Linked DNA regions of Homo sapiens: region 1 is linked to region 2. Evidence: fine-mapped expression QTL. Tissue or cell type: whole blood. Region 2 holds a variant in brackets; the other region holds the start of a gene. All regions are shown on one strand. Distances are between the middles of the regions.

Region 1 (8,187 bases), 45 kb before region 2:
TCTCTACACTAATAGATGAAAGAATAAAAATAATATTTAATTATCTCAAAAGATGTAGAAAAAAGCTTGTGATAATGTGATTCAACATTTATTCTTGATGAAAAACTCTTTAGCCAACTAGGAACACTTAACCAAAAGAATGAGATTTTTGTGTTATGATTTAAAATAAATTTGCTAGATTCATTTATTTTGCTTACATAAGAACTTTTGCAAGTAATGGTGTTTTGCAATGATACTTTTTAATATTTTTGGAACTTAAGAAGTTGTATGATTCTTATGAATTAGTTCAGTATTAAAGATCAAAGAGGACGTGCCCAGCTAGCTCTGTTGGCAGACCATGAGACTTTTAAAATATCAGGGAGGTAATAATCAGACGGTTAATTAGCAAAAGAGTGGTGAACAAGTCCTTCCTCTCATGGCAGCTGACCATTTCAAGTAGATAATCTCTTACGGTAAACATTCATATTTTTCTTCACTTAATAAACCTTGCAACATTTACTATGTGCCAGGACTGTCCTAAGTGCTTCACAATTATTAACTTAACAAATTTCCTAACAACTCTCTCTGGAATAGTTACTATTATTAAACCTCAGTTTCCTACAGAGAAGGAAACTGAAACCTAGAAAGGTTAAGAAAGTTGACCGAGATCCCTCAGTTGTAAGACAGAGCATTCAACTTCTTTCTCTCTCCTCTCCTTCTGGTACTGTACTGGATATGGTGGACCTCATCAATTTCTCCCTGTATCTTTTACCTACTCTTTCCTATTTTCAATATCTCTGTGCCACATTTCAATTTTTTAAACCTATCTTTTGCATCTCTTCAGCTCTCTCATCTACAGTTTAGCACATTCTTTGACTTTTATCTAAATTTGTGACTGTATTATTTATTTCTAAAAGTTCTATCTGGTTACTTTTTGAATTTGTCTGATCTTTTTGATAGTGTCTCACTCTTCTTTCATATTTTCAAATCCTCCTTGTATCTTCTTGAATATTTGGTCATTGTTATTTTTCCACTCTCCATCTGATTATTGTATTGCAAGAAACTCTTGAGTATCTAATAGTGTCCTCTGGTTTGTCTGTGGACTCTTGAGTGTTTCTCTTCTGTTGTCTAATTTTGGGTTGTGAGCTCATCTTCCTCTGTGTTTATTTGTGGACATCCTGAATTGTCCAATTGAAGGTGTGTTCCTCCAGAAAAGTTTTGTAATAACTTCTGCCTGGCACCCCACGGGGATACAGTAGACAGAGGCCACTTTTTAAAAGTTATCACTTAGGGGCCTCCTAAAATATATAAGGAGCATAAATAAGACAAACTGCATGGTGCAAACCAATGGTTGTAAATTCTTCATATTTTTCTCACCACATGCAGAATACAAGCCAAGACAGACAAGTTTTCTTATTGTCTTCTTTTACCAGCACGAGATAGTAGATTGTCCCCTTCAATTGGAAAATACATTATTTCATACAGTTGTTCTTGTATTACTCCTTTGGTAAATTATACTTTTCCATTTTCATGGTTCTCTCTTTTTATAACTACAAGCATTAAATTTCCTAGCCTGAGATCCTTTAATGTTTTTTGTAATGCTTTTCTGTAAGGGCAATATGCTAGCTTTGTCATTGGAGGATCCAGAAATGTCAGTATGTAGGGTCTGTGCTTTATAATCATTCAGTTTTTCCAGAAAATAATTTTCTACTTTCTCCAGTTTTGTGCAGGTAGAGGTAGGATGGGGGAGCCAATGGCATGTTCTTGATTGTCTAAGTTCTTGAGAAAGGTTCAGAAAGGGCCCTGCAACATCTTCATTTCATATACAGTTTTCAATCCTGAGACACACTCACTTGCTGCAGTACCTGGGAACTTGAGACCAGAGAGTCTCTGGTTTAACTTCCCTAGAAAAGAAACCGCCAGTCTCCTTTGGGCAGCAGCAGATGAGGCAGATGTGGAGGACGGAAATTATGCCTGAGGAATGGGCATTTTTCAGGCTGCCAAGAAAAAGGATCCTGAGGATCAATCCCTTAATATACAGACTTTCAAATCTTCCTGCATTTTTAGCCCCGTATCTCTCCCCACCTTCCTTAGTCTATGGTTGTATTAGTTTCCTGATGCTGTTGTAACAAAGTACCACACACTGAGTGGCTTAAACAGCAGAAATTTTCTAACAATTCAGGAGACTAGAAATTTGAAATCAAGGTGTGGCAGGGTTGATTCTTTGTGAAGCTTCAAGAGACAGTCTGTTCCAGGCCTCTCTCCTGGCTGCTGATAGCCTTGAGTGTTCCCTGGCTTGGAGATGGTGCTCTCCCCATGTCTTCACGTTGCCTTTCTTCTATTTTGTCTGTCTCTGAATCCAAATTTCCCCTTTTGTAAGGACGCAATCATCTTGGATTAGATCTCACTCTAATGACTTCATTTTAATGTGATTACCTCTGTAAATACCCTATCTCCAAATAAGGTCCCATTCTGAGATACTGAGGTTAGGACTTCAGCATCTTTGGGGATGAGAGAGAACACAATTCAGCTATAACACTGCTGCCCCAAATCCTGGCACAGTAAATCAGCTCATTTCCTCATATTCATGCCTACGTGCACACCCCATCATACACAGACACACACACACATACATACACGTACAGAGACACAAACACAAATACATTGACACATACACATGCATGCAGGCTGTGTCAAAAAATGTACTCTGGATTTGTTTTAATTAGGTATGGTAAGACACACAGACACAAACATGATTGGCACAAAAGAAGAAGTTTATACTTAACAGATCCCTAGAAACAAGAAGCATGGTGTCTTGGTTCGTTTTCTGTTGTTGTAACAGAATACACAGACTGGGCAATTTATAATGAACAGAAATTTATTTTTCACAGTTCTGGTGGCTGGGAAGTCCAAGATCAAGGGGCTGGCATCCTGCAAGGGTCTTCTTGCTGCACCATCCTATGGTGCAAGGCAAGAAAACATGAGAGCAAGAAAGAGAAAGAGAGAAAACGAGGCCAAATTCATTCTTTTATAAGGAATCCACTCCTGCAATAATGGCATTAATGCATTTATGAGGGCAGAGCCCTACAGCCTAATTGCCTCTCATTAGGTGCCACCTCCCGACACCATTGTGTTAGGGATTAAGTTTCCAATACATGCTTTTGGGAAGACACATTCAAATCATAGAACATGGCATGCCACACAGGACCACATAGGGAAGAACCAATGTTGGTCAGAAGGCAGAACGGAGACAGCAGAGTACAGCACAGAGCCTTTACTAGGGTTTTCCCAGGAAGGAATAGGTGAAGCAGGGTAGGGTGCTGCATAAATTTAGGAGTGGATAGCTTGAATAATCGTGGTGTTCTCTGGGCTATAGTGGTCTGGTATCTGGACCTGGGGTGACTTAGGACAGGAGGAATATTGGCTTAGTGTGTGAGAGTTTGATAATGGAGATGGTTGTGTGGGCTCTGGATTGGTTGGCTTGTATATCAAAGGAGACTTTGCATATTTCAGGGGAATCATTTGCTATCTCTAGAAATTAGCTAACATAGGAGAATCAGTTTCTCCAGGATCAAGGCTCCAAATGCCAGAGCATCAAGAATACAGAAAATAAGAAGATACAGTCAATACACATACACACAAACATACACACACCATACACACAGACACAAATACACACAAACACATGTGCACATACACACTAGTCTATTGGAGTGTGTTTCCTTGGCTCCATTCATTCTATTACTCTTCCAGCTACTTTGCCTCCTACCTCTCCCTCTTTTTTTTTTTCCAACTTTTTTGAGCCATAACATTTATATCCGTTTTCAGGAATTGCAGTGGGATTCAGAGAATAGGCAAAGATTAAACTTGTGCGTTCAACCTTCCACTTTTAACTGGAAAACACTCAAGTGCAACATTTGTTGGTACTCTGCAGCACCTCCACAGAGCTTTTGCTGCTGCCACGTTAGACAGCTTCACCATGTAATGACGACCTTTTAAGATTCTAAATCCCCCCACCTCTGAGCCTGTTCTTCATTGGAAATGCAAGACGACCGGATGACATGAGGGAGGGGCAGCTCTTAAGGCTTGACCTAATTTCCAGTGCTGCTCATGTTGATTTCTCTCCGTCCTTCTACTGCAGGCTGTGCGTCTCTGCTTACCCAGCATGCTTGTACTCCACTACTGGAAGTAGCCTGTCACTTTAAAGGAAAAAAAAAAAAGCTACCGAGTGACCTTCCTTAGGAACGGGTTGCTAAGCTGGTGTTTTTGCTCCAAGACATGGCTGCAGCTTCCCAGGGAGGAGCCCAGGGGCATCTCCAACACTCAGCCTTTCCCTCCGGACCCTTTTAAAAGATTCAACAGCACCGTCTCTCTCCACTTCCATCCTAGAATGCAGAATCTGCAAAGTGCCTTTTGTAAAGTTTCTTAAGGTAAATCAGTCCCTAACCGGACTTTAGGCTGCAACAGTGATTTCCTGTTTTCAGTTACCCGGCTTGAAGTTCAGCCTCTCCAGGATACCGTGAGACTGGATTTAATGAATTGTAAATTTAGGGGCTCTCATCGTTATTTATGTTTTTACTTTCTGAAATGGGAACATAGACCATTACTTGGCAGCTTTGATTTGAGCTGCTATCTGGTATCTGGTTTGCAGGAAATGTAAGTCCAGTTCATCACAAGTCCTGAGTGAAAATGCTCTCTGACCAAAGCTCTGTGAAACATTAGCTGCGTGTTGCATTTATGGGCCTTTTAGTTCAAACTGGCTTAAGGGGAGAAGCACTAATTACTGCAAAATACACTTTTCTTGGTATGAGACAGAGAAAGGGCTACTAACCACAGTGCTAAGAGTTGCTGTGCTTTCCAAAGACTTCAAGAAAATGTACTGGCTACAACTTAAGCTGATTGTTTGTTTCCCTTCATTGCAAAGAGGTGGTATGAAAAGCTAATAAAGTCAAATAAGAAATATGTTTGCTACTGCATTTTCATATAACCTTTTCTGCAAATAAATTCAGCACCAGCATGAAATCTCTCTCTCTCTCTCTCTCTCTCTCTCTCTCTCTCTCTCTATATATATATATATATATATATATATATATATATATATATATATCCTAGAGCTCACTTATAGAGTCATTCATTCAAACATTTATGGAGCATCAACAATGCACCAGGCAATGAATTTAAGTTTAGAGTGTGCAAACATAAATTAGACTAGGTCAGAAGCTCAGAATTTGCTGGGAAAACAGACCTATAAACACATGATAAGAGTACAATGAGCTAAGTGCCATAAGAGATTTATAAAAACACTGAGAGGACAGTGGGATGACATCCAGGGAGGGGCTTCCAGTACTTAGCACATCATGTAAATGCACTGGTCATATATCACGTAACACAGCTCAAATATGGTACTCATGTGTACTCTTCAAGGCCAGTGTACATTATATCGAGCTGATTAAATGATTCTATAAAGCTATTGGTCACTAACCTTATGCTAAGGGAAACTGCAGCTGGAATAACTTGTAGAATAAGATAATGTATTCCAAAACAATGTATGTGGCACCTCCCCAGGTGTCCAAGCTCCAGGAGGGAACAGAAAAATGTTCTCAGGGTGTGAGGAAGAAAATACTCATGGGTAGAAGTGCAGGAGGTTTCAGAAGCACCATAAATGGAAACAGCAAGGCAACTGCCCTGGGCCTGGCTGAAGGGAGGGAGACATGAAACATGAGTTATGGTAGCTGGGGGTTGAAGATTGGAGCTGAAGGTGGGTGGGCTTGAACATCACCTAAGGTCTTTCTCATGACTCCTCTTCTATCCCCCAAGCTCTTTTCCCTCCTCATTCCTTTTTTCCACTTTCCCTCCCCACAATCACTTTTTCTTAGTAACAAAACCTACCAATATTGAGAGCCCAGCCTGTGCTAGGCATTTTACTACACACATTTCATCATTTAGCCCTTATAAATTAATCATCCTTCAAGGTAGGAAGTATGATTGCAATGTTGCAGACAAAAAAAAAAAAAACGTGTCTCAGAGAAGGGAGGGCATTGTTCCAAGATCACACAGCTAATAAATAAAGCTGAAGTTGGAACTCAGGTCCACATATTCCTTGGCAAAGAAATATGTGGACCACTCTTCCTATAAACCCATGTTTTTGCCATCCTGGAGTAGGGCATATATATTGTATGATTTTTTAAGCAACCAATATGGAGTTGAGATGCGTTGTATCTCAACCTCCAGGTATGGCTCTGACCCACTGATGACTCTTAGGAATAGTCCATTTATTCAGATGAAGGTGTCAGTACTTTCCTTGAAAAAATATATCTGGTTTTCTGCACTGAGTAAAATAAATCATTGGCTTAATGTAGCCTAAGCCTTTTCTCACCAGTGCAATGCTTCACAGCTTTCAACTGTAAATATTTCCAGAATAGCCCACTATTCTGGAAAGCACAGAATAATTATTGATGCCATTGCAAAAGCAAGAATAAATGGTGAGATGGAGGGGTAGAGTGGAGTGAGGGAGGACTCAGGAATCACAGAGTCTTGGGATCAAGTTCTGAATGTGACATTTAATAATTATAACTTTGGAAAAATCATGTAAATTGTCAGAGCCTCAGTTTACTCATACGCAAATTGGGGCACATACTACTAAGCCAGACATGTTATTGTGAGGACTAAAGAGAACATGTCTATAGTTAGCACAAAATAAGTGTGCAGTAAATCATAGCTATTTTGATGTTGCCAGTAGGAATATATTAACAAGTACCAGTGCATAAGATGATGGCAAACTGCATATTAAAACCAGGCAGTATTGATTTATCTTTTCTTAGCAACAGTGTTCATATAAAAAATAAATTTCGGTGTCATTTGATTTCCTTAGAAACTCATTTAAAGGAAATGATCAGGAAAGAATGAGGAAAAAAGAAAATCCCATTACATTTTTCATTTTCTACTTCTATTTTTTTCTTCCATATAAAGCATTTATTAACTTATAGAGAACTTTTTTTAGTTACTAAAATGTTTCACAGGTTTTTTTTTTTTTTCAGTTTGCAATGACCAGAGTTGTTCATTAGAGAGCTCTCATGTACTTTTGCATTTCATCTTTATTATCTGCCCCCTCATTCACTCTAGGTTATCTCCTTGCCTCTCTATTTTCTTAGCTGCTTTTACATTTTCCTTCCTCTATTTTTTGTACCCTGTGATGAGGTTTGTAGAGAAGACAATAGAATTTCAGATGCTTTATTTCCCTTTAACATGCTAATTCCCCTGTAGGGTCAGTGAAACCTTGATCTCAGATGAGCTGCTTAAATGACCTGACCAAGTCCCAGTTAAGATTTGGGTTCCAAGGATATTAGAAAGGGCTTATGATTTGTCAGCCATATGCCTGTTGTTTCTCCATGTGTTTTCTCATTTAATCCTCACAGCAGCCTAGAAGAAACAGTGGAGCTTTAAATAGTCCCAGAATGTGGCTATGGAACCACAGCCAATAAGTCAGTGACTTAATCATTCATTCGACAAGTATATATTGAATGTCCATGATGTCCCATAATCCTAGTCTCTGGGGGTAAACAATAAACAAAATAATGTTTCTGCCCTCTTGCAGCTATATTCTAATGGATATGGGCTGACATTAACAAGTAAGTATGTATGTTGAGTGGTAATAAGTACTGTGAAAAAATCATTGTAAGGTAGTTAGGGAATTCCAGGAGGGTGTTGGGAGGAGATCATTGTATTACGAATGGTCAGAGAAGAGCTCTCTGATAATAAAATTTCAGCTGAGACCTGAAGAAAGTGAAACAGCAAGAGCCATGCAGATATCTTGGGAAAAAGGAGAACTAGGTAGCAGGAACCGCAGCTACAAAGGTCCTGAGGCAACAGGATTCAAGTGCAAATCACACAGGGCTTGTAGGCCTTGGAAAAAACTTTGGGTTTTACTCTGTTGACAAAGGGAAATCATTGGAGGATTTTGAGTGAAGCAATGTGATTATGTCACTCAAATTTTCATCAATTTGCACTGGCTTCAATGCAGAGAATATGGTAGCCCAGCAATGTGGCAAGCTGAGAAATTAGGAGTTTCTTGCAGTAGATTTCAAGAGAGAAGATGGTGTTTGACCATGGTGATAACAGTGGAAATGTTTAGAAGTGATTAGATCCTGAAAATAATCTGAAGCCAAAACTGGCAGGATTTCTGATGGATTCATGTGAGACTGAGAAAGG
Region 2 (8,187 bases):
AGCCAGACATGGTGGCACACACCTGTGGTCCAAGCTACCTGGGAGGCTGAGATGGGAGGATCACTTGAGCCCATGAGGTCGAAGCTGCAGTGAGCCATGATTGTGCCACTGCATTCCAGCCTGGGTGACAGAGTGAGACCTCATCTCTTAATTAAAAATAAATAAATGACTACATATATAACCTGACTCCTGTTGCCATGCAGTTTGCAAGAAAAAAGTATGAGAAGTGATTCCAACTTTCATACTAACTGGAGAGATCAGAATATTGCCTGACTTGAGGATGAGGGAGTGCATGGAAAGACAGGAAATGTTGGTGATAAGACAGTTTGTTCAGCTCTGAAGTTGCCCCGGCTTTCATTATAGGAAAAAAGGAGAGTACTAACTCCAAAAGAGAAACAACAAAAAAAGGTCATTTGTTTAAAAATTCTATATTTCTCATAATACAACAAAACTATCTCAGCATTGGCCAATAAAACAATAAATCCACTGTTTGTCATTTTAATAATCTTATCTAAAGTGTTTACTGCTATAAATATGTATTTACTTGTTGGAATGTAAATAATTGCTGGGGTTTTTTAAAGTCACTAATTAGAGTTACTATTAAAGGAGGCCTCCAACTGCCTGTGGCAGATATTAAAGTTTATTACCAGTAGTCTCACACCTTTAACTAAGACAATATGCTTCGGAGGCCTGGAATATGCCTGATCTCATTAGCATTAAGCCAGCTGTCAGTTAATTGTGCAGAGCGCATTACAGCTTATAAATGGGAAATTGCGATTGCTCCTTGCTTTTCGTTAGGTTCCACCTGGCTTCCCTTCTGCAGAAGAGGCCTATAACTTCTTTACTTTCAACTTTGATCCCGAACCAGAAGGATCAGAGGAAAAACCAAAAGCAAGACATAGAGCGGGAACTAATCAAGAGGAGGAGGAAGGGGAAGAAGAAGAACCACCTGCACAAGGAGGAGGAAAGGAAATGGTATTTAATATCAGGATGGTAATGAGGTGTGGGTGGAGGGCTAGGAGGAAAAAGCTGATGTCCCTGCAAGAAAGAAAGTGGCTGAGGAGAAACCTGCCACCACCAGGAGAATGACACTCCACGTCTGAGTTGAAATCCCAAGTACTGAATTCACATGGCTCCCTGTAGCTCTGGGTTAGACCCTACAATGTGGTAGGAAGAACCTTGATTAAACCTGTTTATTTTTCTTTTGTGGAAAAAAGAATTAAATAATGTGGCTTGAGGGTTTTTCTTGCTAGACTCCACGTAATGATTAGTATTTATTCCATGTGCAAAATATGTTCCTCTGCAAGGCAAATGAAATCTTGGTCTCTCTCTTACCACAACCTTACAAAGTAAGCAGCATTTTGTGCCCAAACACCACACCCAGGCTACAACTCAAATTCTGCAACTGTGGGTGGTATGTGTGAGATAAAAGGAGAATAAGCCATTTAAAAATGGGCAAAGGTATTGAATAGACATTTCTTCAAAGAAGACATACAAATAGACAATAAGCCCATAAAAAGATTCTTAACACCAATCATCATAAGGGAAATGCAAATCAAACCCACAATGAGATACCCCTGCACATCCATTAGAATGGCGCTTATCAAAAAATAAGTGTTATAGAGGATATGGAGAAATTGGACTTTGGTGCGTTGCTTGTAGCCATGTAAAACAGTGCAGCTGCTGTGAAAAACAGTATGGTGGTCCTTCAAAAGTTAACCACAGATTTACAATATGATCCAGCAATTCAATTCCACTCTGTGTATATATCCAAAAACACTGAAGACAAGAATTTGAACATATACTTGTGCACCGATGTTCATAGCAGCATTATTCACAAAAGCCAAAAGGTAGAAGCAACCCAAGTGTTCATCGGAAGATAAATGGATAAACATAAATATACAATGGAATATTATACAACCGCAGAAAGCATGGAAATTCTGACACATGCCACAACATAGATATACCTTGAAGACATTACACTAAGAAAAATAAGCCAGTCACAAAAGAATAAATATTGTGTGATTTCACTTATATGAGCTACATTGTATCATCAAAATCATAGAGACAGAAAGTAGAATGGTGGTTGTCAGAGGTTAGAGGAAGGAGGGAATGTTTAATGGGTATAGAATTTCAGTCTGGGAAGATGGATGGATGGTGGTAAGGGTAGAATCACAATATGAATTTACTTAATGCCACTGAACTGTTCACCTAAAAATGGTTAAAATGGGCCGGGTGCGGTGGCCTGTAATCCCAGCTTTGGGAGGCCGAGGAGGGCGGATCACCTAAGGTCAGGAGTTCACGACCAGGCTTGGCCAACGTGGTGAAACCCTGTCTCTACTAAAATTACAAAAATTAGCTGGGTGTGGTGGCAGGCACCTGTAATCCAGCTACTCAGGAGGCTGAGGCAGGAGTATTACTTGAACACGAGAGGCAGACGTTGCAGTGAGCCGAGATTGCGCTATTGCACTCCAGCCTAGATGACAAAGCAAGACTCTGTCTCAAAAAAAAAAAAAAGGTTAAAATGGTGGACTTCATGTTATATATATTTTACCACATTAAAAATAAGGAAAACACACTAGGATATTCTAGTATTCACATAATTGGCATACTTCTGTGCTTCACTTACAATCTCCTCCCTTGAAAAATGCCTCCCGGAAATGTACTTTTTTTACCTAGATCTACAGAAGCTTGGGAATATTTTAGCTTATTCTATAACAATCATTCTACAAATCAGCATTCAGGCCATTCAACATTGCTTGAGTGTCCTCCTGACATGACAGCTAACTTCCCAAAAGCAAGTGATCTAGGGGAGAACCCAAAAAAGAAGCCACAGTTCCTTTTATGACCTAGTCTCAGGAGCCACATACTGTCACTTCTGCCATATTCTACTCAGGAGAAGCAAGTCACGAGACGTAGTGCACTCTCAAATGGAGGAGAATTGGGCTTCACCTGTTGAAGATAGAAGTCTCCAATTGCGAATATCTTCTGAAATTATGGCACTTTCCTCCAAAGGCCACTTCTCCCTTCCTTTTGCCTATTCACTGCCCCAGAAGCTCTGTTCCTAAAACTGCTCTTTTAAATCACACACATTTGGAAGCCCTTCCCTATAGTCCATGCTCTGCTCTGCCCAGACACTTTTAAAGTATTTTCGTCTTCAAGGTTCATTTAGCCTTTTTGAACAAAGTTTTAGATCCTCTGTAGCCCCTTTCGCTAGCTCCCCTTTTCTGTCTTCTCTGCAGTTTTTCTCTGGGTGATTTTGCTCACCACGAAGCAGAGGTGGGGCAGGAGAAGGAAGATTACACACTGCCATCTGGTGATCTTTCTCTTTTCACTTGTTTGATGTTTTGGCATTCTCTGTCTTCAAGTTAAGTTAAAAGCATGGTTTCTACATAGATTCCCTTTTTCCTTCTTATTCTTTTGTGTACTTGGGGAGGAAATCTTAAGAGGCAGGTAGCTAGACTGCCATCATTGTCTTTAGCTACCTGAAAGTCTCCACAGGATTTTAAAAGATGTTGCTCATAAATGGACACCAGGTTTAAATTTTTAAAAGAAGGAGAAGGAGAAAGAAAAAGAAGAGGAAGGAAGAGAAGACGTTTAGAAAATATCCAAACAAAATCAATATATGTCAGCTAACATTTGTGATTATAGCCTCTTTGCTTTGAATTTTTAAGTGTATCATTTAATTTTATCCCCACAAAGTGCTTAGAGGTAAACTCCATTACTATAACTATCTTATAAGTGAGGAAACTGAGGATCAGAAGGTTAAATAAGCTGTTTCAAGTTCCTCAGGCAGTATATGGTGAAGCTGGGATTTAAACCCAGGCAGTCTGAACAGGGTGTGTGGACTGTGCACCTATACACTTGGTGCCTTTTCCCTTGGTTTAGTGCCAGGTGGAAGGTTAAACTGCTACATAAATTATGAGCCCAATTCTTTACATAAATGGCAAGAAGCAAGCAGTCTCATAGGAGGCCAGATTTGTTGGGATTTTGATTGTTTTGCTTACCACTTCTCTTCTGAAACAGCCATCTCTGATTTTGACATCTTCCAGGTGTGCAGAATACTGCAAAACAATTTTTTTAAAAACCCACTTGTTAAATATGAAAGGTTATATAGTTCTATGCTTTCACTTTTTTAAAAAAAGGAAAAGATAAAGTTGTAGGAAATGTTAAGTTTCATGAGTTTGGTATTGTGAATTATTTTTCTAACTAAGAATCTTAGCATGATTTTTTCTTGTTACTTTTTAACATTATGCAGGATGAGGAAGAACTGCTTAATGGTGATGATGCCGAGGACTTCCT[A/G]TTGGGCTTAGATCACGTGGCTGACGATTTTGTAGCAGTCAGACCTGCAGATTATGAAAGCATCCATGATCGGCTGCAGATGGAAAGAGAAATGCTCTTCATACCCAGTAGGCAGACAGGTACTTGCTCTTTTTATTTTCTTGTTCAGCTTAGACATCGTCACTTACCTTGTCATGAAATATGGCTAGTGTATAAGGATGCCTCATCTCCAGAACTGATTCCAGTTTCTAATCTAACAATCAAGAAATATCTTCAAACAAACAAAAAAAACACAACATGGAAAAATATCCATTCAACAAACACTTATTGATAGACTAATGGAAGATATACCAGAGTACTGTGGGAACCCTTTATCAAATCAGTGATCCATTACAGGGGCTTAGAGTTTATGAGAACAGCCTTTCTTTCTTCTTAAGTTTATCCCCAACCTTCCCTAAGTCACCATCTCCTGTGTATTTTCTTACTACTCTATGGCGTGATCTTGTAGAGACCTTTGCTTCCTGTTGCTGCCTATCACTCCCACTATGATTCAAGCTCCAAGGCAGCAGGGGCCTGGCCTGGATTCCCAGAGTCTCATCTGTGCCTGGCACAAGGAGGCTCTCAGTAAAGATGTGTTCTAGGAATGAATAAAGCCGTGAATGAATAAATGAGGTAATGATCACGTTCAATCAAATAAACTTGTTCATTTACAAAGCACGTCCTCATACTTTACCTCATTTAATTCTCCCAGAAGCCCAGTTAAGTAGATTAGTATCTCTTTTGTACAGGAGGAGAGAGTTCAAAGAAGTGCCTGGCCCTAATTCACCCAGCTGAAGAGTAATAGAACTAAAACTTGTCTCTCATCCTATGATTTGAATACTACCTTCTTCTCAGTATGCCACACTGATGAGTTACATATTAAATTTTTAGGCGTTTTCTTTAAATACCTGATTCTACAACATACTGCTACAAGTGAGCACATTCATCTTTTCCTTGGTTCTGCTTTTAAAAATTAATTTGGAAAATTTGCATTTTCTAAGAACATAAATGAAATCTCTGGTGATTAATTCACCAAACTGCAGTTTGAGATATTTAGATTGGCCCTAATGTTTATTTTATTTATTTATAAACGATCTAGTCCCTACATATAAAAAGCTTCCTGAGAATGTACAGCCCAGGTTCCTGGAAGATGAAGGCCTTTACACCGGGGTAAGACCAGAGGTGGCACGCACCAATCAGAACATCATGGAGAACAGATTGCTGATGCAGGACCCCGTAAGTGTGCACCCTCTGCTCTCAGGTGTAGCCTGGGCACACTAGACATAGCTTTTATTTTCCTAACAGGGCAGTCATTGCATCCACTGTACTCATTTCCTCTTGAGGTTATCCACAGAAAGTGGTTCATTTTTTTTTTTTTAACTTTCTCTCTCAGTACATTTATTGATCCTCAAATAACATAACTTCTCAACTGCTCAAAACCCATCTTTGCTAGCTAGATCTGGGCTTTTCCTGCTAAACCAGATCCTGGCAACATTTTCCTACTTGACAGAATTTTTAAATTATCCATAGGTAGAATAGTTTCACTTTTGAGTTTTTATTCTGTGTTTTTTTTTCTTAAATGTTTAATTAATAGAAGATAAATTTTTCTTAAGCACTCATTTAAGCTCTTTAAAATACTTTTTAGGAAGCCAGGGTGTATATTTTAAATCAATTGTGAGAAGTGTTAGTGAAGACTTGATTTCTAATGGAAACAGAACTTTTACAGTTCTGTTGGGGGAGGAAGTACATGAAATATATATGTTGACACAGAATTTTCAAGAAATGTTGTTTGTGTTGTGAACCATTTTCTGTTCGATTAGAAGAAAATGTTGCCATTCCCTCTGCTTCATCTACAGGAAAGAAGATGGTTTGGAGATGACGGCAGGATCCTAGCTCTGCCAAACCCCATCAAGCCATTTCCTTCAAGGCCGCCAGTACTAACACAGGAGCAGAGCATTAAGGCAGAGCTTGAAACACTGTATAAAAAGGTAGACACTCCCCTCTCTCCACTTTTATTAAATGAAATTGAAAGTGCTTTGCTTTCTGAATAGCTTGGGGTGCTATATTTATAACATTCTACTTTAATTTTTTAAATAATTCACTATCTTACACATAAAGAACAAACATCAGGCATATTATGTAAGAGTAAGTCTAATTATACTCAATGCATCCCTTCTTTTTTTTTTTTTTTTTTTTTTTGAGACGGAGTCTCGCTGTCGCCCAGGTTGGAGTGCAGTGGCGCGATCTCGGCTCACTGCAGGCTCCGCCTCCCGGGTTCACGCCATTCTCCTGCCTCAGCCTTTTGAGTAGCTGGGACTACAGGTGCCCGCCACCTCGCCCGGCTAATTTTTTGTATTTTTAGTAGAGATGGGGTTTCACCGTGTTAGCCAGGATGGTCTCGATCTCCTGACCTCGTGATCCGCCCACCTCAGCCTCCCAAAGTGCTGGGATTACAGGTGTGAGCCACCGCGCCCAGCCCAATGCATCCCTTCTTAAACAAGGAGTGAGTTTCCTAGCTAGGAATGACTGAGTCTGCATCTTTTTTTACACATCCAGGTTAGCTACACTTATTTTTCTTCTTTTGCCCTCTCTTTTCTCTTGTTATCTCACATTTGCTGCAGGACCACTTCCCATTTGTTGTCTCTTTATTATATAACCGGAGAGTTTCTATCCTTGCAAATCCTTTATATTGTATTTTCCTAAGTCTGGTAACAAGCTGCCTAATTCCAGCCCTTGCTCTACCATTCACTGGGTGAACTTGGCCATTAGTCTCTCATGCCTCAATGTCTTCATCTGTAAGGCAGGCACGATAGCAGTGTCTGCCTCCCAGGCTTGCTGTGTAAATTGAATGAGGTAATCCACATAAGTGTCTAAAACAGACCTAGTAACTGCTGGCTATCATTACAGTTCCCTGCCCTCATATTTAATTGCATTGCTCTTGCTTTCCTGGGTGTATTAATCTGTTATCACGCTGCTGATAAAGGCATACCCAAGACTGGGCAATTTACAAAAAAAAGAGGTTTAATGGACTTACAGTTCTACATGGCTGGGAAGACCTCACAATCATGGCAAAAGGCAAGGAGGAGCAAGTCACGTCTTACATGGATGGCAGCAGGCAAAAAGAGAGCTTGTGCAGGGAAACTCCCGTTTATAAAACCATCAGATCTTGTGAAACTCATTCACTATCATGAGAACAGTGCAGGAAAGACCCACCCCCATAATTCAATCACCTCCCACCCGGTTCCTCCCATGAAACCTGGGAATTGTGGGAGTTACAATTCAAGATGAGATTTGGGTAGGAACACAGCCAAACCATATCATTTCACCCCTGGCCCCTCCCAAATCTGTCCTCACATTTCAAAACCAATCATTGCCTTCCCAACAACTCCCCCAAAGTTTTAACTCATTTCAGCATCAACTCAAAAGTCCATAGTCTAACATCCCATCTGAGACAAAGCAAGTCCCTTCTGCCTATGAGTCTGTAAAATCAAAAGCAAGTTAGTTACTTCCTAGATACAATGGAGGTATAGGTATTGGGTAAACATGTCTCGCATTCCGGTCATGCTGATGCAAGAGTTAGGTTCCCATGGTCTTGGGCAGCTTCGCCTCTGTGGCTTTGCAGGGTACAGCCTCCCTCCTGGCTGCTTTCATGAGCTGGTGTTGAGTGTCTGCAGCTTTTCCAGGTACACAGTGCAAGCTGTCAGTGGATCTACTATTCTGGGGTCTGGAGGACAGTGGCCCTCTTCTTATAGCTCCACTAGGCAGTGCCCCAGTAGGAACTCAGTGTGGGAGCTCCAACCGCACATTTCCCTTCTGCACTGCCCTAGCAGAGGTTCTCCATGAGAGCCCTCCCCCTGCAGCAAACTT

The links. PIP is the estimated chance that this variant, and not a neighbour inherited with it, causes the effect.
Region 1: CC2D2A starts here. The variant in region 2 is fine-mapped to the expression of CC2D2A in whole blood (TOPMed, PIP above 0.99).

Annotation. Positions count from the first base shown.
Region 1 is chr4:15,465,649-15,473,835 of GRCh38, forward strand. CC2D2A (coiled-coil and C2 domain containing 2A) reads left to right here and starts at 4,234. Exons shown (of 37, transcript NM_001378615.1): 1 at 4,234-4,409.
Region 2 is chr4:15,510,449-15,518,635 of GRCh38, forward strand. It overlaps CC2D2A (coiled-coil and C2 domain containing 2A), which reads left to right. Exons shown (of 37, transcript NM_001378615.1): 8 at 799-975; 9 at 4,259-4,421; 10 at 5,420-5,556; 11 at 6,177-6,308. LOC124900672 (a long non-coding RNA gene) reads right to left here and starts at 4,259. Exons shown (of 2, transcript XR_007058062.1): 1 at 4,008-4,259. The variant A/G (reference allele first, on the strand shown) is at 4,303.